3 linked regions of the Homo sapiens genome follow. The protein of the gene in region 2 purifies or fractionates together with the protein of the main gene of each other region. This does not show direct contact. Each region holds a gene or a part of one and is shown on either strand. Other genes may lie near its edges.

Region 1 (7,000 bases), on a different chromosome or scaffold from region 2:
AAATTGCTTTGTCGTGGCTGGTTGTTAATTTGCTTGCAGTTAAAACTGTCACCACGAAGTGGCAGTATAATGTTGTTAAACTGCTCAGTGTAAAGCGGTTATAGTAGAGAAAAAATTACATTATTCACTTTTTATAATTCAGTACCTTATGAACACAAGCTGTGCAACAGTGTTAGGTGGTTATATTATATAATTTTGTGAAGGTAAAAATTCTTCATATTTTTAGTTATGATTTGTGGGATCAGACGATGCAGGACCACAAAGGAGTTAAATCTGTTCCAACCCTTTCATTTGACATATACTCAAATTCAGAGGTTGTCATTTGCGTAAAGTTATATGGATCTGAAAATTTCTGGAACCAGAATTAATATCTTAGTTTCCCCATTCCTGGTTGGTATAATGAATAATTAAAATACTAATCACAGCAGTGGTGATAATAATAATAGCCTAAAATTCACTATGCTCTTCCTGGGTTTCAGGCACAGATTATTTTATTTACTTCTCCAGGCAGCCCACAAGGTCAGTGTTACTGTTGTTCCCGTTTTACAGATGAGGAAACCGAGGCTCAGTGAGTTAAAGTAATGTGTCCAGCATCACCCAGCAGGCAAGCTAAAATTAGACTAATAGCTCAGAGCAGCACTTCTTGTTTTCCTAAGATACCTTATGTGAGTAAAACCCCCAGACTTGAGCCCCAGTTTAGTATGGTGGTAAGAACAAGCCGAGTCTTAGACCCAGGCAGCCCTGCATTTGTGCCTTCCAGGTCATGTACCTTGTGTAAGCTCTTTAACATCTCTGTGTCTGAGTTTCCTCACCTGCAAAATGGGGTGATGATCATGCCTGCCTCCAGAGTAGCATGGAAAGCCCTGGCACACGGTTGGCATTTGTTAATTGGAATTCTTGTTATTGTTGTTGATGTTGTTGTCATCTGTATGGGCTCAGATTTTCCCACGGATCAACTTAGAAACTGCAAGGTACAGTGACTCTGCAGTGCCCAACATGGAGATGCAGAGATGTAAACCAGTGCCCAGAGCATGCAGTGCAGAGCATGGCTCCTGCCTCTGACCCTGTCATTGCAGACCTGGGCAGGCTGCTTTCCCTCCTTGTCCACCCACTTCCTCACTGGGAGACAGTGGGGTTGGACTGGATCACCCAGTATCTTTCCAGACCTAGAGCTGAGTATCTACTCAAGTGTCAGTGATATACATAAAATCAAAGGTCTTCTGCCTCTCATCACCCCAAGAACAGATGACCATCTGATTTTTCCAGTTCATGACTTCTTTGTTGTGTAAGTCAGCTTTAACACTACTTAGTTTTTTTGGCACCTAGCCTCATCTTGGGTAATATCAGTGAAAAGCTGAGTTTGATCGACTAGTTATGCATTTTAACATGTTCACAATTATAAAACCATTAAAAATAAAAGTTGATCACCCATGGACCACCTAATGTCAACTTTATGCCATACATTGGAAAACTCCATAGCATAGATGAGTAAAATCCTCAGAGGGTGACAACCAGGGCCTCATTCCCAATCTCAATTACTGATGCTTCTCTGCTTTTTCTTCTTCTGCCTCTTTTCCACCCTTGCCGGGTGACCCTTTCCAGCCCACAGCGTCTCCTGCCTCTTCAGCCGACATGGCCCCCATCAGCTCGGGGTCTTCTACCTGGACGTCCTCTGGCATCCCATTCTCATTTGTTTCCATGGCAACTGGGATGGGCCCCTCCTCCAGTGGCAGCCAGGCCACAGTGGCCTCGGTGGTCACCAGCACGCTGCTCGCCGGCCTGGGGTTCGGCGGTGGTGGCATCTCCTCTTTCCCCAGCACTGTGTGGCCCACGCGCCTCCCGACGGCCGCCTCAGCCAGCAAGCAGGCGGCTAGGCCAGTCCTAGCCACCACAGAGGCCTTGGCTTCTCCAGGGCCCGATGGTGATTCGTCACCAACCAAGGACGGCGAGGGCACCGAGGAAGGAGAGAAGGATGAGAAAAGCGAGAGTGAGGATGGGGAGCGGGAGCACGAGGAGGATGGAGAGAAGGACTCCGAAAAGAAGGAGAAGAGTGGGGTGACCCACGCTGCCGAGGAGCGGAATCAGACGGAGCCCAGCCCCACACCCTCGTCTCCTAACAGGACTGCCGAGGGAGGGCATCAGACTATACCTGGGCATGAGCAGGATCACACTGCCGTCCCCACAGACCAGACGGGCGGAAGGAGGGATGCCGGCCCAGGCCTGGACCCCGACATGGTCACCTCCACCCAAGTGCCCCCCACCGCCACAGAGGAGCAGTATGCAGGGAGTGATCCCAAGAGGCCCGAAATGCCATCTAAAAAGCCTATGTCCCGCGGGGACCGATTTTCTGAAGACAGCAGATTTATCACTGTTAATCCAGGTAAGTGGTGCAGGTCTTCTTCGAGGGTTCCTGCTCCTGTGAATAGTCGTACCCTTTTTCAAAAAATTGGGAGCAGAAGGTGAAGCTTCAGAAGGTACTTAATATTCTTAGAATCATATATGTCTGTCATAGAAAAGGTGCACACATGTGAAATGTGTATGTGTGTGTCCCTGTTTTACTCCAAAAGCCTACTCTCTTACGCTGGAGTAAGTCTTTCTTTGATATTTGTTTTCTTGCCTCGGAATAACTCCAGGGACTTCAACCAGGCAATGATATACATGAATAAAAAAAGCCATCGATCTTAAGAAGTTTATTTATTAAGATTTCATTCCATATTCATTATATAATGTATCTACAAATGGCTAGTTTGGTGCCAGGGACTGGGCAGGGTGCTGTCCCAGGGGATCCTAGTCCCTGCCTAAAAAGTTTAAAGGGGAAGGCAGACAGATGACAAGACAGTAGCTAGCTGGAGCGCATGCCCAGAAGTTAGGTAGCAGGAACGTTAGAAAGCCAGCAAGCTAGATGGTGGTTAGTCGGCAAGCTAGATGGTTAACTGGCAAGCTGGAAAACTAACTAACTGAAGTTTTCGATTGTGAAATGGTAATAGAGGAAATAAACAGGATGCTGTCCAAGAGAATTATGGAGAGGATAGGGACCTACCTTAATTAAGAAAGGCCACTCTGGAGAAGTGGCTTGTTCATGGAAACCTACAGAATGAAAGGCTTCAGCCTGGGGAGAGCTGGTATTGGCCCATGGTCCTTGCCCAAGAAATACGGCCCTCTCTCCCAGAGCTCCCATTGCTGTGGGAATGAGCCAGTGTATAGACAGTGAGGCCAGGGCATGAGATCCTCATCTCCTGGTGGCAATTTTGTTGCTCTATCATATGCTCAAATCTTAATGAACCATCCTGATAGTTTCTGCAAGGGAGCCATAAGCATGAGGAGTTGTTATTGTTGTGAGGGCTTTTCTTAATAAGAAATTCTTCATTTTGCCAGACTACAAGATGTTTAGCAACAATTTTTTTTGCGTCTAAGCTGTTGTGGAGTTATAAGAGTGCAAAAAAAAAGCAACTGGTAAATATTTATTTGCTTTTGCACTTGTAAACATTAAAATTCATCTAAAGCTGAGATCTCGTATGTTAAGATACAACTTAGAATAAATTTTCATGTTTTGAATTACTTTCCTCTTAAAGCTGCTATGAACTAATTTTTTGAAGTGGGGGTCTCCTGTGGGTATTGCTCACTTTAGCTGTGACTGGGGGAAAGGTGCAGAGTAGCCTTTTGTGGAACTGAGTGAAGGAAATGTGGGGCCACTTGGGAAGCTGTTTCTGTAAGAACAGTGACATTCCCTCTAGGAATTACTTTGAAAAAGTTGAATTTCTTGCATTTGAAGACGCTGAAGAAACATGTACGGAATGCCCACTGTATAAGAGGCACCAGGCTAGGCTTTGGCAGTAGAACATAGGTAACACAGACTTCTCTTCTCTTGGGGTTTGCATTCTGGTAGGGGAGCTTGAGAATATGCCAGTAAACAAATACATACCCTTAAGTAGCCTTAATTGCTACAGTTGGGGAGCGGAGGGACAGTGTAGCTCTGAGTGGTCAAGGATGACCTCTGAGCAGAGAGCCAAGTGGTAAGAAGGAGCTAGCCATGCAAAGATCCAGGGAGGGGAATTCTGGGCTGCAGGAACAGCAGGTCCAGAGACCCTACAGTGGGGAATTAATTTGGATCAGTTGAGGAGCTATCAGGCCAGTGTGGTTAGACCAGAGGGAGTGAGGGGGAGAGGAGGGGATGGATTTAGAGATTGATGGAGGTGCTCTGGAAAGGTACTCGTTGACCACGCTGAGGATTTCCTTCTACTAGAAATGAGAAACCAGGGTAGATCTTGGCTGCAGTGTTACTTGATTGATTTTTTGAAAGACCTCTCAGGCCTCTGCGTGGAGATGATATAGGAAGGCAGGAATGGATGAAAGAAGCCCAGTTAGGAGGCAGTGGTAATGGTGGCTTGGACCAGTGTGTTTTCTATGAAGACAGGTGGTGGACTTGGAATTGACTTTCAAGCTTGAGTGTTCAGCCTCTGGACTATGGGCTCTGGCAAAGTAGCATTCTCAGCCTGCTCCTCTTAAACATTTGTTTGACCACATTCCTGAAAAATGTGGCTGCTGAGAGCTTAGGCTGGGAGTATTTACAGTTTGAGAGATGGGAGAGAGGCAGGGACTGGGACCGCCCCAGGTAAGTGGAAATGAGTTCTTGCCATTGGAGTCAGGTTCCAGATTCCAGAGACAGGGGAGAAGAAATGGATGGCAAACTTTGGGGGCTCCCTACTCCAGGTATGAGGTGTGTAGGTCCTCGGCTTCCACCCTACAGAAATCTGAGAGCATCTACAATCTTGGCAGAGTGGCTTTGGGAGTCAGATCAACCCAGTTGGCTCTGTCCCTTATTCACTCAGGGTCCTCAGGTAAGTCTTAGTCCCGTGTCCTCGTTTGCAAAGTGGAGCTAATGATCATGCTTAATGCCGAAGGTGGTGTGGCTGTGGAGACCCCCTCACTGTCACTGACAAATAGGAGCTGTCAGCAGCCCAGGTGCCACACAATGATGGTGACTGTGAGGAGGCCCCCCACAGCCCTTTCCTTTGCTATTGTCTGTGGACATTAAAGCTACTGGTCCCCAAGTAACTGCCATTAAAAATGACCTCCAGATGGCCGAGTGCAGTGGCTCACTCCTGTAGTCCCAGGACTTTGGGAGGCCAAGGAGGGTGGATCGCTTAAATCCAGAAGTTCATGACCAGCCTGGGCAACATGGTGAAACCCCGTCTCTAGAAAAAATACAACAATTAGCAGGGCACAGCGGCTCATGCCTGTAGTCCAGCCACTCGGGAGGCTGAGGTGGGAGATCACTTGAGCCTGGAAGGCAGAGGCTGCAGTGAGAAGATCACACCACTGACAGAGCAAGACTCTGTCTCAAAAAAAAAAAAAAAAAAAAAAAAAAAGAAGGACCTCCTCCTGAAACTCAACACTGGTAAATCAGAGCTTTCCCTTATCACCTTCAGCAAAGTGAGAAGGTCCACTTCTGAAAGCTAAAAAAAACTTCCTTGAAAATTTCAAGCAGTTCAAGTCTGAAAATGGTGGTGATGATTGTTTAAGCCAGATATAAGCAAACTTTTTCAGCTAAGGGCCAGAGAGTAAATGTTTTTCAGTTTTGCAGGCCACAGGTCTCTGCTGCAGCTACTTAATTCTGCCTTGTAGCACAAAAGCCACCATAGACAATACACAGCTGAGAGGATGTGATAGTATTTCAATTAAAACTTTGTTTGCAGAAACAGGCGATGGGTCTGATATGGTCCACAATCTGTCATTTGCCAACCCCTGGTTTACACAGAAATCTGCATGTGCCTGTTGATTAGTAAAGGACGTGAGTGACCTGAAGGTAAAACAAGCAAATCCCACATCAGTCAATGATCCTTCAGGTCTTGCTTCACTTCCATTCACCCTGTCCTTTGCCCTGTCTGCCTCCTCCAGTATGGTATTTATTTTTTAATGAAATCGCCATCATTTTAATGTTAGTGATTTATTTTAAGGACTTTGTGTGTACATTTGCTTTAAATCTGTTACACATTTATTTTTTCTTCATATTAAGGAAAAACAATTACTTTAATCAATACCTGGTCTCTGAAAAGAGTGATAATGTGTAAAGTTACACACTGTTATATTTTTATGAGTATCTCCAAACAGCTTGTTTAAATCCCTTTGGTGTTTCATAACATATTTTTAAGTCCTGTGAGTAGTGGCTTTAATATATTATCTCCCAGGGAAGAAGAAGAAGGGAATCCTTCTATAGAAGAAGTGGCAAACCCAGACACCTACAGAAACCAGTTAATACTAATGAGAAACAAGGACCAGGTGTTAGACATTAGGGAGTGGTAAGGACTGCAGCAAATTAAAGAGCACATGACTTTTCTAAAGAGGGCCATCTCACTCAGCTCCAACAGATTACTGCCAGTGAGAATGCCTAGTGAGCCAGAAATCCAGGTTTTTGTGCAGAACCCCCCAACTTTTAAGTAAGCTCAAATTTTTAAAACAATTTCTGCTTTTTAAAAATGTAGGCCAAACTAAACCCATCCCTGGGCCAGGTAGGAACCGCGGGTGGTCAACCTCTACTGTAGTGTTGATTGCTAGAGTTGCAACTTCCTGAGAAGCCTTTCAGAAGGCTTGAAGGCCTAGGTGTACTCCCTCCCTTTCACCAGGCTTTTTTCTAGCGTTTCTTTAGTGCAAAGCCCTCAGCTGGATGTCTGCTACATGGAAATCCAGCATGTGGTCCCATCCTGAGGAGCCACAGCGTGAGCCCAGAAGCCAACTGATGCAATGAAATGTTCTTGGGGGTACTATGCAGTACAGCATACCCTACAAAAACATTTCAGAGTGGGCATCATCTACAAATTCATCATTTGGTGCTGGGATTTTCCATTTTTGTTTCCTTAAATTAGGGAAACTCTTTTTTCAGGTTGAATCTTGCTCAGAAACTCAGTATGTGAACACTCATTGCTGAAGGTTTACTGACTGCATCTTCTGGCTCAGCCCTGAGTCAGGTGCTAAGGGGACATTCCACTTCAGGGGTCGGCAT
Region 2 (8,455 bases):
CAGCGGCGGGCAGAAATGGCACGGGGCGTGGAGAGATGTGGGTGTGTGGGCGGCCATGGGTCATGTGTCTTTTCTTGCTAACATCCTTTGTGCTCCTGAACAATGTGGCCTGTTTTCCCCATCTAGGGGCTTGGCTCAGGCCCAGTTCACACAAAGCCCTGAAGGAACTCATCCACCATCCCAGAGGCAGCCACAGCTGGGCACAGACGTAGAAGGTACGAGTCATCATGGTGTGGATTCCCAGGAAACCCATCACTTCCCGAGCCTGAGAGTCTGGAGAGGGGAAGTGGGGGTCTACATGAGGCACTATGTGACTCACCACGAGACAAATAGAATAAGAGGGAGAGGACAAGCCGAGGAAAGAAGAGGAAGAAGGGAAAGAACAGAACCATCTATTTAGCAAAGAGACACCACTCTTTGGGACAAAGATTCTGGGAAGGAAGAGATGCTGGAACTTGCTGTGTGACCTCAGGGATGTCAAAGACCCTCTCTGGGCTTCAGTTTTCCCATTTGTAAGGTGAGGGCCCAGACTGGTGAGGCTTGAGTGGCCCTTTAGCAGCCAGGGCTCCACAGACTGAGGCAGGTCTGAAAAGGGAAGGAGTCGGGCACCTGCTGGAGCCCAGGAGTCGGAGAAAGGCACTGGCAGGCTGGCCTCGGGGCTGTGTGACCTGCTGGCCACAGGACCTGCCCTGAGTCAGTGTCATGAGGCAAGTGTGCCAGACTTTGCCACTTTCAAACACAGGGGGAGGAGTCTCTCAAATTCCTGGAAAGAACTGGGGTGGGGCTGGGGGATGGGACATTTATTGATCTCTTAGCAGCCTGGCACTGTGCCAGGCACTTTCCTTACCTCCTCAGGAAGCTCCTCAATGAGGTTATTCTTAATTCCATTTTACAGAGGAGGGAGCCCGAGATCAGAGAGATTAAGGGGCTTGCCCAAGTCACACAGCTAGTCAGCTGAAAGCTGCAGTGCCGTGTCTGGATCCACCTGACCCCATCATTGTTACTGTAGTTGTTATTATTAGCACAAGGACCAAGGGACAGGGCACTACCAGGCACACAATGATAACGGTGCAAGGCGGTGACTTCCATACCATCTGACCCGCCAGCAAAGCGGGGCGCAGGGCGGTGTGCACCCAGGTCACAAGCAGGGGAGTGCCAGACCAGGTGCGGCTGTCTGCCTGCACACACCTTCCACTGTGTTTCCACTCTACTCCAAGTATTTCCCAGATGTGCCTGATCCAAAAATCCAGGAGGGCCAGGCCCTACACAGACCTACTGAATTGAAATATCCAGGGAGGGGTGTCAGCAACTGTTTCAGGGGATTCTTCCCATCTAACAAGTCTGCACATCTCTGCACTGAATCCCGCTGAGCAGTCCAGAGCCTGCTGCCTCTACCATGCATTCATTCATCCATTATACACTAGTTCACGTACCCATTCATTCATTCTTGGCTGCCAGGAGAGGAGGCTATGAGTAAGGGGCCCTGAAGAATCTTGTTCTTACAGAGGACAGGTCCCTTACTATCACCTTCTGGAGTGGCTCCAGCCCCATTCTTTGCTCTTGTCCCCTGCCAAGCTCCCCTGGTGTCCCCGCCCCCCGGCTAGTGCCTGGTTCCCACAAGGCCACTTACCCTGGGGCAAATCTGGATATTGAAGCCTTCCTCCTTCATCTGGCTGAGACCCAGAGGGACCTGCCAGGTGGCAGGGCCCCAACAGGACACTCCCACCTGTGCAAGGGCTACCAGGCTGGCTACAGCTGAAACCTCTCCCTGTTCACAAGCTACCATGACTTCCCTTCTGTCTGCATCTGTGCCCGCGACCACGGTGCTTCTCAGGGTGGATGCCCCTCCTTATGCTGGGTTGACGTTAAAAGAGAATTCACTCACAAAACTGATTTACAAGTTACTAAAAATTACTGTTAGATTTTTTAAAAAGGAAGAAGAAAAACATTAACTCGCCAGGTGGGACCCATGAATCTGAGCAGTGATTTGTATCATAGCTTCCTGTATGTCCTTAGGCAAATCACTGCCCCTCTCTGGACGCCAGTCTCCAGTGCATGGATTCCCTCCTGTGCTGACAGTCTGATTTGTGGCGCTCTCTTATAGACCAGGGTTTCTTAGCCTTAGCACTGTTGCCATGTGGGGCCAGATACTTCTTTGTTATGTGTGCGTGGCAGGGGAGGGAGCTGCCCTGGGCATTGTGAGATGTTTGGGAGCTCTCTGGTCTCTACCCACTAGATACCGGCCACTGTGACAACCAGAAATGTCTCCCAACATTGCTAAATATCCCCTCTATATAATGGTCAGACACAGAGATGTCAGAAGATCATAAGCACTTACATTATAAAAGTAATGTCGCCACATTACAATAAATAAAAAGGGGTGGAGTGGGGGGGGGGTCCCACTCACATCAGTGGCCTAAAGCACTCCTGGGTGGACTTGGGACTCCCCGGAGCCTCCTGGCCACCATGGGCTACTTGATTGCTGGCTGCTGGCTGGGCACACTCACTACTCCTTACTGGGAGGAGACGGAGAGGTGAGGGGCCTTTGAAAAATGCCTGCATAGCCAGGCGCAGTGGCTCATGCCTATAATCCCAACACTATGGGAGGCCAAGGCAGGAGGATTGCTTGAGGCCAGGAGTTCAAGACCAGCACGGCCAACATGATGAAACCCCATCTCTACTAAAAATACAAAAATGAGCTGGGCATGGTGGCACATGCCTGTAATCCCAGCTACTCAGGAGGCTGAGACACGAGAACTGCTTAAGCCTGGGAGGCGGAGGTTGCAGTGAGCCAAGACTGCGCCACTGCACTCCAGCCTGGGTGACAGAGCAAGACTCTGTCTCAAAAAAGAAAGAAAATAATGCCTGCATGAAACCAAAGGCTGGCCAACCCTAGACTCACCTGAGAGGTGTCACCTGGCCTTGTGGGATCTCATAAAAGGGCTGTTAGGCTTCTGCCCTTTGGGGGCCCTCAGCACATTTGGGGGCCCGTGAGCCTGATCTGTCTTTGGGATTAAAACATTATGGATGATAAATGGGATCAAACTGCCTCCGGAGCCTCCAACAAATTGACACTCAGTGTCCTCATCCACAGAGACAAATAATGACCATTACTGGGCCACATTTCCACCCATGTGCTATGCAGGACCTCGCCCCTTACATACATTGGACACTTAGCATTTATAGAGTGCATTCACACACACTGAGCATGGGATCTGAACACCACAGCTCCAGCTCAGGAGCCAGAATCTGAGTCTCTGCTCTATCCCTTCCTTGGACAGCTTACTCAGTCTCATACCTCAGTTTCCTCATCTGTAAAATGGGAGTGATGGTACTAGTTCAGGGTTGTGGTGGGGAGTATGAAACGTGCTCAGAATAGCACCTGGGCCACAGGGCTGGATACACCTGTACTATTTAATCATCTCTGTGTTACAGAGGATCCTACTTAGGGGAGCACAGAGAGGTTGAGCAACAAGCTAGAGGACACAGAGCAATCCAGAGGCAAAGTTGGGATTGGATCCACATGCAGCCCAATCTAAAGACAGTGTGCTTGCTCCCTGCCCATCAGGGCTATGCATCACCACATCTCAACAGCAAAGGCCAACACAGGGCAGAGACAATTTTACTCCACGCAGCTGCCAGAACTCTTTTGTATTTATGAAAATCAGTTCAACTTCAATCCCACAAACATTCTCAAGTCACCTGTGTGCAAAACACAGGTTCCAGTCTGGGGGCAGATAAAGTGTATAGTAAGAGCTGTGGAAATAGACAGATGGTGTGAATGAATGGACGAGCTATGATGTGCATCAGCAACAGCAAGGAGGGCCAGAGGCTAGGGACCAGTGGGGCAGCGATGGTGGGCAGGAGTGGGTAAGTGCATCATAAAGGTCTCTTCTGGCCTGGGGCTGCCAGAATGATGGTATTTCTAGGGAGAGGGATGGGGGATAGGAGAGACTAGGAGTTGGCTGAAATGCATGGTAGGCAATGGCTGAGCTATGAGAGAAAGCAAGAAAGGCAGATAGATAGGGGTTTGGAGAGCCTGACTGCTAGGTGCTGAGCTGGGGGAACCTTAGGCAATAGGGAGCCATGGGAGATATTTTAATAGGGGAGGCGGCGATGATCTGAGCCAGGTTTAGGGAAGTTCTCTGGCAGCAGAGTGGGAGAGAGCAGCATGCACACAAGATACAGCCGGCAGAAAACGAGGGTCAGCATCGAAGACCGCAGTTCCCAAGAGAAGTCGGAGAGGGGACTGGGTTTCTGCCCTTCTCTCTTCATGGGTGCAATTAGCAAACATCAGCTGTGAACCAGGCACCGCGCTTAGGGCCACAGTCCATGTCACGGCATCTGACCCGCATGAGACCAGGGAGGAGGCACTAGGAGTTCTCTTTTATGATTAGGAAATGGAGCCTCAGAAAGGTTCAATAACTTGCTGACAATTGTACAAACCTATAGGTGATGGAGCAGGAACTGAGAAGCCCGGATGTGGTTCCAAAGACCTGCCTGGTCTTTGAACCCCTGCCTCATCGTTCAGTGGCTATCAAGTGCCCAGTCTGAGCAGGGTTCCGTGTCACACGCTTAAAGAGTGGAGTTGGCATATCCTCTAACTGAGAAACAAAAGCATTTCTGCACCAAATGTGGATGAAGACTGAGGCGTCCAGGCCCCGAGGCCAATGCTCAAGGGCGCCCAGGGAATTGCGGTTTTCCAGGTCTGGATGTACAGGGACTCGGAGAGGTACTGCTCTACTGCCTCCTTTCTCCCTGCTCTGGGCTCCTCTGCCCCTTTCTGTCTGTCTGATGGGGAGGGAAATTGGGGACAAGGAGGAAGGAGAGGGACATACTGCCCACCCTGACTGCTCAGTGGGAATCTGAGGGCGGGGAGCTCCTTGTGGTGTCCCTGGGCCTCCCATCAGCACCTGAACAGACTCCCACCTCTTCTTCATGTTGCCCTCACCTTTCTGGTGACTCTCCAAACGTTTTCTTCCTTTCCTAACGTTTTCTTCACTCCAATTCTCTGTCTGCCAAAGATGATGCAGGCCCTTGTAACTGCTCCCTAGGGCCTCTGACTCTTTTTTTTTTTGTCTTTTCTTTTTTTTTTTTTTTGGAGACTAAGTCTCACTTTGTCGCCCAGGCTGGAGTGCAGTGGCACGATCCCAGCTCACAGCAACCTCCGCCTCCCGGGTTCAAGCAATTCTCCTGCCTCAGCCTCCCAAGTAGCTACATTACAGGCACATGCCACCATGCCCAGCTAATTTTGTATATTTAGTAGAGACGGGGTTTCACCATGTTAGCCAGGCTGATCTCAAACTCCCGACCTCTGGTGATCTGCCCACCTCGGCCTCCCAAAGTGCTGGGATTACAGGTGTGAGCCACCATGCCCAGCCTCTGACTCTTACCGTCATCTCTTTTCTCGCTCCCATCTATCCTGCATGGTATTCCCATTCTAGTTTTCTTGAAACTGGTTTTTATCCTCCCATGCATTGCTCAAGAATCTTCAATGGCTCCCTATGGCCCACTTAATTCCCTACATAGACTCTCCTCCACCCCTTTCAAATACCACCAGCTTCACGGAGTCTTTCCAGAACCAAGATGATGTACTGTGACCATCTCCAGGGTTCCCACACTGTACTGTTGATACAGGTACAGCATCCCAAATACAAATGCTCCAGAATCCTAAACTTTCTGAGTGCCAACATGACGCTCAAAGGAAATGCTCATTGGAACATTTCAAATTTCAGATTTTCAAATTTGGGATGCTCAACCAGTAAGTATAATGCAAATATTCCAAAATCCAAAAAAATCCCAAATCCAAAATCCAAAACCCTTCTGGTCCCCAGCATTTCAGATAAGGGCTACTCAATCTGTACTTCTAGAACAGTGTTGTCCAATAGAAATATAATGCAAGCCACAGATGTAATTTTTTCTTTTTTTGAGATGGGGTCTTGCTCTGTCGCCCAGGCTGGAGTGGCAGTGGCACGATCTTGGCTCACTGCAACTTCCGCCTCCTGGGTTTAAGCGATTCTCCTGCGTCAGCCTCCTGAGTAGCTTGGATTACAGGCACCCACCACCACACCCGGCTAATTTTTGCATTTTCAGTAGAGATGGGTTTTCACCATGTTGGCCAGGCTGGTCTTGAACTCCTGACCCCAAGTGATCCACCTGCCTCAGCCTCCCAAAGTGCTGAGATTACAGGTGTGAACCACTGCACCTGGCCCACAAATGTAATTTTATATCACCCAACAGCCATGTTTCAAAACGTAAAAAGTAAATAGGTGAAATTAATTTTAACGTTTTATTTAACCTAACATATCCAAAATACTATCATTTCAACAGGTAATCAATATAAAAGTTATTGAGACATTTTATGGCTCTTTTTAATATTTTAATTATTATTATTTTTTAATAGAGACAGGGTCTCTCTTACCCAGGCTGCAGTGCAGTGGCATGATCATAGCTCAGTACAGCCTCAAACTCCTGGGCTCAAGCAATACTTCACCTCAGCCTCCTCGAGTAGCTGGGACTACAGGTATGCACCACCATGTCTGGCTAATTTTTATTTTATTTATTTATTTTTTTTGTAGAGGAGATCTCACCATCTTGCCCAGGCTGGTCTCAAACTCCTGGGCTCAAGCCATCCTTCTGCACTGGCCTCCCAAAGTGTTGGGATTACAGCCATGAACAACTGCATCTGGCCTGTCTCTTTTTTAAATACAAGGCTTCAGCCAGATGCAGTGGCTCATGGCTGTAATCCCAGCACTCTGGGAGGCTGAGGTGGGTGGATCACTTGAGGTGAGGCATTCGAGACCAGCCTGGCAACATGGTGAAACCCCGTCTCTACTGAAAATACAAAAATTAGCCAGGCGTGGTGGTGCACAGCTACTTGGGAGGCTACTTGGGAGGTCAAGGCGGGAGACTCCCTTGAACCTGGGAGATGGAGGTTGTAGTGAGCCGAGATCGCGCCGCCACACTCCAGCCTGGGCGATAGAGCGAGACTTCGTCTCAAAACAACAACAAAAAATCCAGTGTGGACTTTACACTTTCAGCACATCTCAGTTCAAACCAGCTACACTCCAGGTCTGAATTCAGTCTACTAGCAGCATATGGCTGCTGGGGACCCCACTGGACAGCATAGTTCTAGAGACTGTAAGCCTGAGTTTGGATTCCTGAGCAGTTGTCCCATATTCCATCTATCTTAACAGCGTAAGTTACTCAGTTTATGGGTTGAACTGTGTCCCGCTCTCTCAAATTCATATGTTAAAATCCTAACCCCCAATACCTCAGAACGTGATTTATTTGGAAATAAGGTCGTTGCAGATAGAATTAGTTAAGGTAGGATGAAGTCACACTGGAGTAGTAGGGTGGGCTCATAATCCAATATGATTGGTGTCCTTTGAAAAAGAGGAAGTTGGCTGGGCACAGTGATTCACACCTGTAATCCCAGCAATTTGGGAGGCCAAGGAGGGCAGATCACCTGAGGTCAGGCATTCAAGACCAGCCTGGGCAACAGGGCGAAACCCCGTCTCTACTAAAAATAAAAAATTAGCCAGGCGTGGTGGCGGACACCTATACTACAACTTGGGAGGCTGAGGCGGGAAAATCGCTTGAACCCAAGAGGTGGAGATTGCAGTGAGCCGAGATCGTGCCACTGCAGTCCAGCCTAGACAACAGAGTGACTCTGTCTCAAAAAAAAAAAAAAAAAAAAAAAAAAAGAGGAAGCTAACCAGGTGCAGTGGCTCATGCCTGTCATCCCAGCACTTTGGGAGGCCAAGGCAGGCGGATCGCTTGAGTCTAGCCTGGCCAACATGGTAAAACCCCATCTCTACTAAAAATACAAAAATTAGCTGGGTGTGGTGGCTCGTGCCTGTAGTCCCAACTACTCAGAAGGCTGAGGCAGGAGAATCACTTGAGCCTGGGAGGCAGAGGTTGCAGTGAGCCCAGATCCTGCCACTGCACTCCAGCCTGGGCGACAGAGCAAGACTCCATCTCAAAAATAAAAAATAAAAATAAAAAGAGGAAGTTTGGACACACACAGAGAGAATGCCATGTGAACATGAAGGCAGAGATCTGAGTGAGGCATCTATAAGCCAAGGTACCCCAAAGCTTTGACAACAACCCCTAGAATCTGGGAGAGGGGCAGGGAACAGATTCCCACTCACAACCCTCAAAAGGAACCAACCTGGGCGACACCTGGATCTCAGACTGCAGCCTCCAGAACCCCGAGACAGGACATTCCTGTTGTTTAAGCCACCAGTGTGTGGTGCTTTGTTATGGCAGCCCTAACAAATAATCAAGCGAGCCCCAGTTTCCTCATCTGTAATATGGGGATAATAAGGTAAACAACCATGGCCAGATGCGGTGGCTCATGCCTGGGACTTTGGGAGGCCGAGGTGGGCGGATCACCTGAGGTCAGGAGTTCGAGCGAGACCAGCCTGGCCAACATGGTGAAGCCCCATCTCTA
Region 3 (5,785 bases), on a different chromosome or scaffold from region 2:
TATAATTCCAACCAAACGACACCCTGGAAAAGACAAAACTATGGAGATGGTGAAAAGAGCAGTGACTGTCACGGGTTAGGGGGAGGGAGGCATGGGTGAATAGATGGAGAACAAGGGTATTTTTTTTTAGACAGAGTTTCGCTCTTGTTGCCCAGGCTGGAGTACAATGGCATGATCTCAGCTCACTGCAACCTCTACCTCCCAGGTTCAAGCAATTCTCGTGCTTCAGCCTCCCAAGTAGCTGCGAATACAGGCATGCGCCACCACATCTGGCTAAATTTTGTACTTTTAGTAGAGATGGGGTTTCACCATGTTGGTCAAGCTGGTCTCGAACTCCTGACCTCAAATGATCTGCCCGCCTCCACCTCCCAAAGTGCTGGGATTACGGGCTCGAGCCACCATGCCCCACCACAAGGGCATTTTTACATCAGAGGAACTATTCTGAATGATTCTGTAGCATGGTGATACATGTCATTCTACATTTGTCAAAACCCATAGGATGCACAACACAAAGAGTGAACTTTAATATAAACTATGAACACTGTAGCTAATAATGAATACAAGTTCATCAGTTGTAACAAAGTGCCATGCTAATGCAACATGCTAATTAGAGGGGGAAATATGCAAAGAAGAGGAGGGATATGGGAATCCCTTTGTGCCTAATTTTTCTGTAAACATAAAACTGCTCTTACAAATAAAGCCTATTAATTAAAACAACAAAATACAAAACAACAACTAAAACCAAAAACAGCCAACACCCAATGGGTTGAGCTGGAGTAAGAACAGGCTGCCCAGCACACTTCCTGGGCCACTGAGCCCTGGGCGTGAAAAGCAAAAGGGCCAGTGAGGTTTGGCTGGGACTCAGCTCCCCAGCCTCTGGCTCAAGCCCGATTACGAACACAAAGGTCATCTGATTGGATTTCCTGTCCCCTCAGCTCACTTAAGGAGGCTTTTCTGTCCACAGCTTTGGTTGCAAAAAGCAATCTGGCTAAAGGGATTTGGGACATCCGGCTGGTGAATGTAGGGGAGGTTTCACCTTTAGATGAGGCACCAGAAACGATGTGCTCCCTGGTAGCATCCTGAGCTGCCCCTCTTGACTTTAATGCTAACCCTGCTGCTTTTCCTCAAGGCTCAGACATCCCATTTCGATGCTTCCAGAAGCACAGCCTGAACCCAGGGACAGGAGCTGCCGCCCTCCCACTGGAGAGACCTCAGAATGGACACAATTGATTCCCAAGTACCCTTAGAGCTCCTGGAAGAGGGTTCCCTTCCCGTCCCCAAGACCAGCGATGCTTCTTGGAGCCAGGTGGCCCCAAAAGGATGGCCTTTGGAGAAAAATAGGCCCCCTTCACGGCCCATCAGCTCCAGGTCAGAGAAGCCACTGGGTTTACACTGCGTGGGGACAGGAGGGTTCTTGATACTGGTCCACATTTAGTGTTCGGTGTGGAAAGCGGAATAAGTCCTCAGCTTCCATGGGATACTGGAATAATCTAGGTAATCTAAGCTCATAACTTACCTTTTCACTATTTACTTTCATATTTTTCCATTCATGTTAAGCATAAAGTTGAAATGTGAGCACATAGCAAAACCTGAGTCTGCATCCCTCTATTTACCCAGTGGTGTGACCTTGAGGAGGTCGAGCTCTCTAAGCCTCAGCGTCTTCAGCTGTGAAACGCAAATTGTGGCAGATCTCCCTGGGATGGTGTTGCCTAAGGGAAATCCCTCCTGGCTTGGGCTCGGGGATGCAGATGCCTAGTGGCAGGCACGCATCCTCGCTTCCTCCCCACAACCTCTCTCCAGCCCCACAACCAACTGTCCCTACCTCCAGCCACTAGGAGGGACACTCTCCATGATACCCCGAGGTCAACTTCCTATGTATCCTGACACAGCACACATTCCTGATAGTCAACCACAGGAGGCTCCGGGCTAAAAACTGGAGTGAGTGGGGAGGAGGGAGGAGGTGATACCACCCTGAGAGAATTCTTGTCCTGCAAAGAGAACTAAACAAATAGTGCTCCAGGCAAAAGCCAGGCTGGTGAAGGAGGCAGGGGATGAAGGAGGGGCTGGGAAGGGGAGATGACAGAGAGGCTTCACAGAGGTCCCGGCGAGCTGATGGGGCCTTGAGAGGCGCCTCTGCAAGGCCTCAAGGTGGGGACATAAAAGGCGCAGGGGAAGTGAAGCTGCTCAGGGCTTGACCCTAGCTCCACACAGAGGCACCTGCCGTGGTGCAAATACACACTGCGCGTTGGGGGGCGGGGGAAGGGGGCGGGGGAGGGCTGTGGCGGACTTGTCCCATGCTCTCACTGCAGCGAGGCAGGTTAATCTGTTTATTTTTTCAAAACAAAACTAAAAATCGCCACTCAATGTATCTGAGCAGAGTGCCTGATCACAGTTAAAAGCTTTCTGTAATGCGCAGCAGGAACGTCATAGCCTGGTGGTCAGAAATGAGTGCTTCTGGCGCTGCTGGACTGTGGCCCGCAGCCTGAGCACCCCTTCTTCTCCTCCCTCTGCTCATATTGTCTTTGTGCTGCCATCCAGTCAGCAGCGGACAGCCAGCCCAATGCTGCTCAGGTCTGTGGCATCCAGAGATAAAAGGCGTCTCCGCTCCCCGCAGGTTTCTGCTTTGCCCACCTGGTGGGGTACGCGCCTGGCACGCCACCCCCACTGGAGGTCCTGAATGGTCCACAGAGAAGGCGTGGGGCAAGGCCTCAAGTGCTGATGCTCTGAGAATAAAAATTAAAAGGCAGCTCTGCCCTGAAGCGTCACCCCACAGGGCTCATTCCTTGGCTGTGCCCTCCTGGGTCCCAGGGTGGACACATGGATTTGGTGTCATCATCGCTCGTGCTTGATGTTGGCTTCACTTCGCTCCAAGGCCACCCCGCTGCCGTTCCGAGGGGCATCCTTCTTGCTCCAGTCCTTTTCAGTGTAGAACTCGGCTAGCACTGGGCAGTGTTCAGAAGCCACCCCGCCCCAAGACCAGTTATCCGGAATCCAAGGGTTCGTGAGGCCTTCTCTCACCACAGCCCAGTGACCTGAAGGGAGAGGAAGGAAAGAGACCGGGAATCAGGATGGGGGGTTGGGTGCGGGAGGTCCTGGATTGGCAGGTGGAGGGTCACACCGCATGTCTGCAGGCCGGGGTGCCCGGAGAGGCTGCCTCAGGTAGCTGGAAGGTGCCTGTGCATTTGCCTGTGCATATTAAAGGTCTCGGCCAGTTTGATTTTCCACATAAAGGAGAGTTTCTGCATTTAGGCAGTGAAAACACCCAGAGGCCAGGCCTCCTGTCCATCCAGACACACATGGGCACATGGGCTGACCTGTCCTCATAAACGCGCTGCTGTGAATCTGATCACAAAACAGAGACAGACGCCTCATAAAGACATCCCAAGTCCAAAGCAAAGGTCCAGTTTTGCAAAGCAAAAGACACTAAGGGGGTTAGGGGTGGAAATTCTTTCTACACAAAGGGTAAAAAAGAAAAAATTACAGAAGCTTATGAGAAAGTAATGGTATTTTTAAAACGAGGATTTAGAAATCTATGAAGCAGGAAGTATATTTGAATATAATTAAATAATGAATAGTTACAAAAACAACTACAGAATAGCTAGAAAGCACTGTGTGGTCCTTAGTGCAGGATTGACATGGGCCTAGATTCTGGGTGGAGCTTTGGCACACACTGCTGACCATTCTGTAGCGGGGGCAACTCCTCCCTGAGCTCAGCAACTTCACAGGAAGGGAACCACTGAAAGGATTTCCAACTTCCTTCCAGCCCTGTTGGCTCAGCTTCCCCAGCTCTCTTCCTTCAATAGACACCTTCCTGGGGGCCTGCAAAGGCCGTGGGCTGGCCTCTTTTCCTGGCCCATAGCGCATTTCTGCAAACCGAGGCTAGTTTGACAATTGTCATTCTCCCTGAGACCCACTTTCTTCATCATTTGGGTCCTCCCATGACAGAGTACAACAGGAAACTAGTGCCCCAAGAGAGAGGGGAGAAGCAGGTGACAGTCAAGCCTAGATGTCCTAGTCTTGAAGATCTTGGCCTTGGCTGCCCATTAGTCTCTCTCGCAATAAAAGCCAGGCCCTGCAACTTTTATTTTTAAATTTCTCATTGAAGTATAATAGGCATCCGTGGGGCTTCGCAAAATGTCCAGTCAGAGTTTAGAAATACTGTTCTTGTCTTTCATCAAAAGACCCTACTGTCTCTTCCATATTGTTGACTGTGTCCTGACTCAGCAGGTTACCAGTCTGCAGAGAGGGTGAAATCACCCCCATACCCTGCTCCTTGCAGAGCACTGAGCATTTCTCCTGTCCCATTGTGACACTATATGAGACACCTGTTCACCTCACAGCATGTCCACCTCATAGCATGTCTACACACTGCATCCTACAACACAACACTTGCATGTTTGACAAATGTTTGCTAGAAGACTAAGTGTCCTAAAAGTAACGTTATCAGCTCATCTCTGAATCAGGACTCTGCCAATCTATAACCAGGTTTGCCTGGAACACATCTGCTTGCTGTAGGTCAGTGGGTGTTCTAAAATTATTTGTCACACTCCCTTTCACTTTGAAAAATGAGGATTTAGAAATCTAAGCAGCAGGAGGTATATTTGAATAAAATTAACGAATAGTTACAAAAACAATTAGAGAATGGCTGGAAAGCACTGTGTGGTCCTTAGCGCGGGACTGACAGGGGCCTGGATTCCTGGATTCTGTCTCTGATTAAATGACAGTTATACAGTCACGTAAACCACAATCCTATGTATGCCTCAGAGGAGGTGAGATGACTTCTGTCAGTTCAGACATGTTTCTCTCACTCCATTCCTGAACAGGAGAAAGGACAAGTGAGTTCTGCCTCACCTGTGAAAACCTTCTTTAAGCTTTTACTGATCCAGATGTTGTCCAGAGACTTCGAGCCTTGAGGGTTCTTGGTGCTGATGTTGGTGAAGGTGTGCGCGGGGATCAGGTGGTGGAACTTTTCTTTCCTCAGGATATCATAGTCATTGCTGTCTGGCCCTTGGCCAAAATCCCCTAAGATAATGACATCCTTTTCTCCTGGAAGTGGAAGGAAGAAAATGAGTTTAAGAGTTGTTGGGAAGTAAAACCCAACACTGACCGTGGCCCTTTGAAACGGGATTGAGATTCTCTGACTTGACTCCCATGGGGTTAGTACTGTGGCATGGTTCTCACTCTCCTCACTCTTCCACATTTCATGTGCATATCACCCTGCCACCAATATTAAGAGTAAGTCAGCAACACGTTTGGAAATCAGGGGCAGCGTGACACAAAAATCACCCTTGTTGAAGCCTATGGGTTCCAAATCTTATCACAAAAAAAAAAAAAAAAAAAAAAAGACCTAAGGGTCTTACCCAAATATTTAACAAAAACTCAACATACTACTGGGCACTTACTATGCAGGAAATCCAGAGATGAATAAAATGCAACTCCTGCTCTGAGAGACAGACTAGAAAACAGACAAGAGCACAGAGTAGGTGCAAAAACAAACACACATACTGAAACCAACACAGCACAGGGAAAGGTGGTCAGGGAAGGCTTCCCGGAGGAGACAATGCCTGACTTGGGTCTCAGAGGATGCACAGAAGTGCTTGGGTCAACATGGATGAGAGGGAACCTATGCAAGGCCAGGGAGCTAAGAAACAGCCTGGCTTCCCAGGGGTGGGGTGGGTACCTGAGGTTCAGTTGGCTACTTCTCTAGGACAAGGTATCAAGAAGCCAGATGTTAAAGATGAGGTTGGAGATATAAGCAGCAGCCACTCCTCGATTGGGAACTGTA

Evidence for each region. Proteins that work in one complex are often made in the same cells at the same time.
Region 1: the proteins of ISG20 (region 2) and PTPRG purify together in Homo sapiens (affinity purification with mass spectrometry; 2 studies listed by BioGRID and IntAct, with this or other methods). This does not show direct contact.
Region 3: the proteins of ISG20 (region 2) and EEPD1 purify together in Homo sapiens (affinity purification with mass spectrometry; 2 studies listed by BioGRID and IntAct, with this or other methods). This does not show direct contact.

The regions. Positions count from the first base shown.
Region 1 is NC_000003.12:62,201,571-62,208,570, forward strand, and holds part of PTPRG (receptor-type tyrosine-protein phosphatase gamma isoform 1 precursor), read left to right. Parts: intron 1-1,602; coding exon 1,603-2,380; intron 2,381-7,000.
Region 2 is NC_000015.10:88,641,178-88,649,632, reverse strand, and holds part of ISG20 (interferon-stimulated gene 20 kDa protein), read right to left. Parts: intron 1-8,455.
Region 3 is NC_000007.14:36,296,254-36,302,038, reverse strand, and holds the end of EEPD1 (endonuclease/exonuclease/phosphatase family domain-containing protein 1), read right to left. Parts: intron 5,047-5,785; coding exon 4,852-5,046; intron 3,033-4,851; coding exon 2,833-3,032; 3' UTR 501-2,832; downstream 1-500.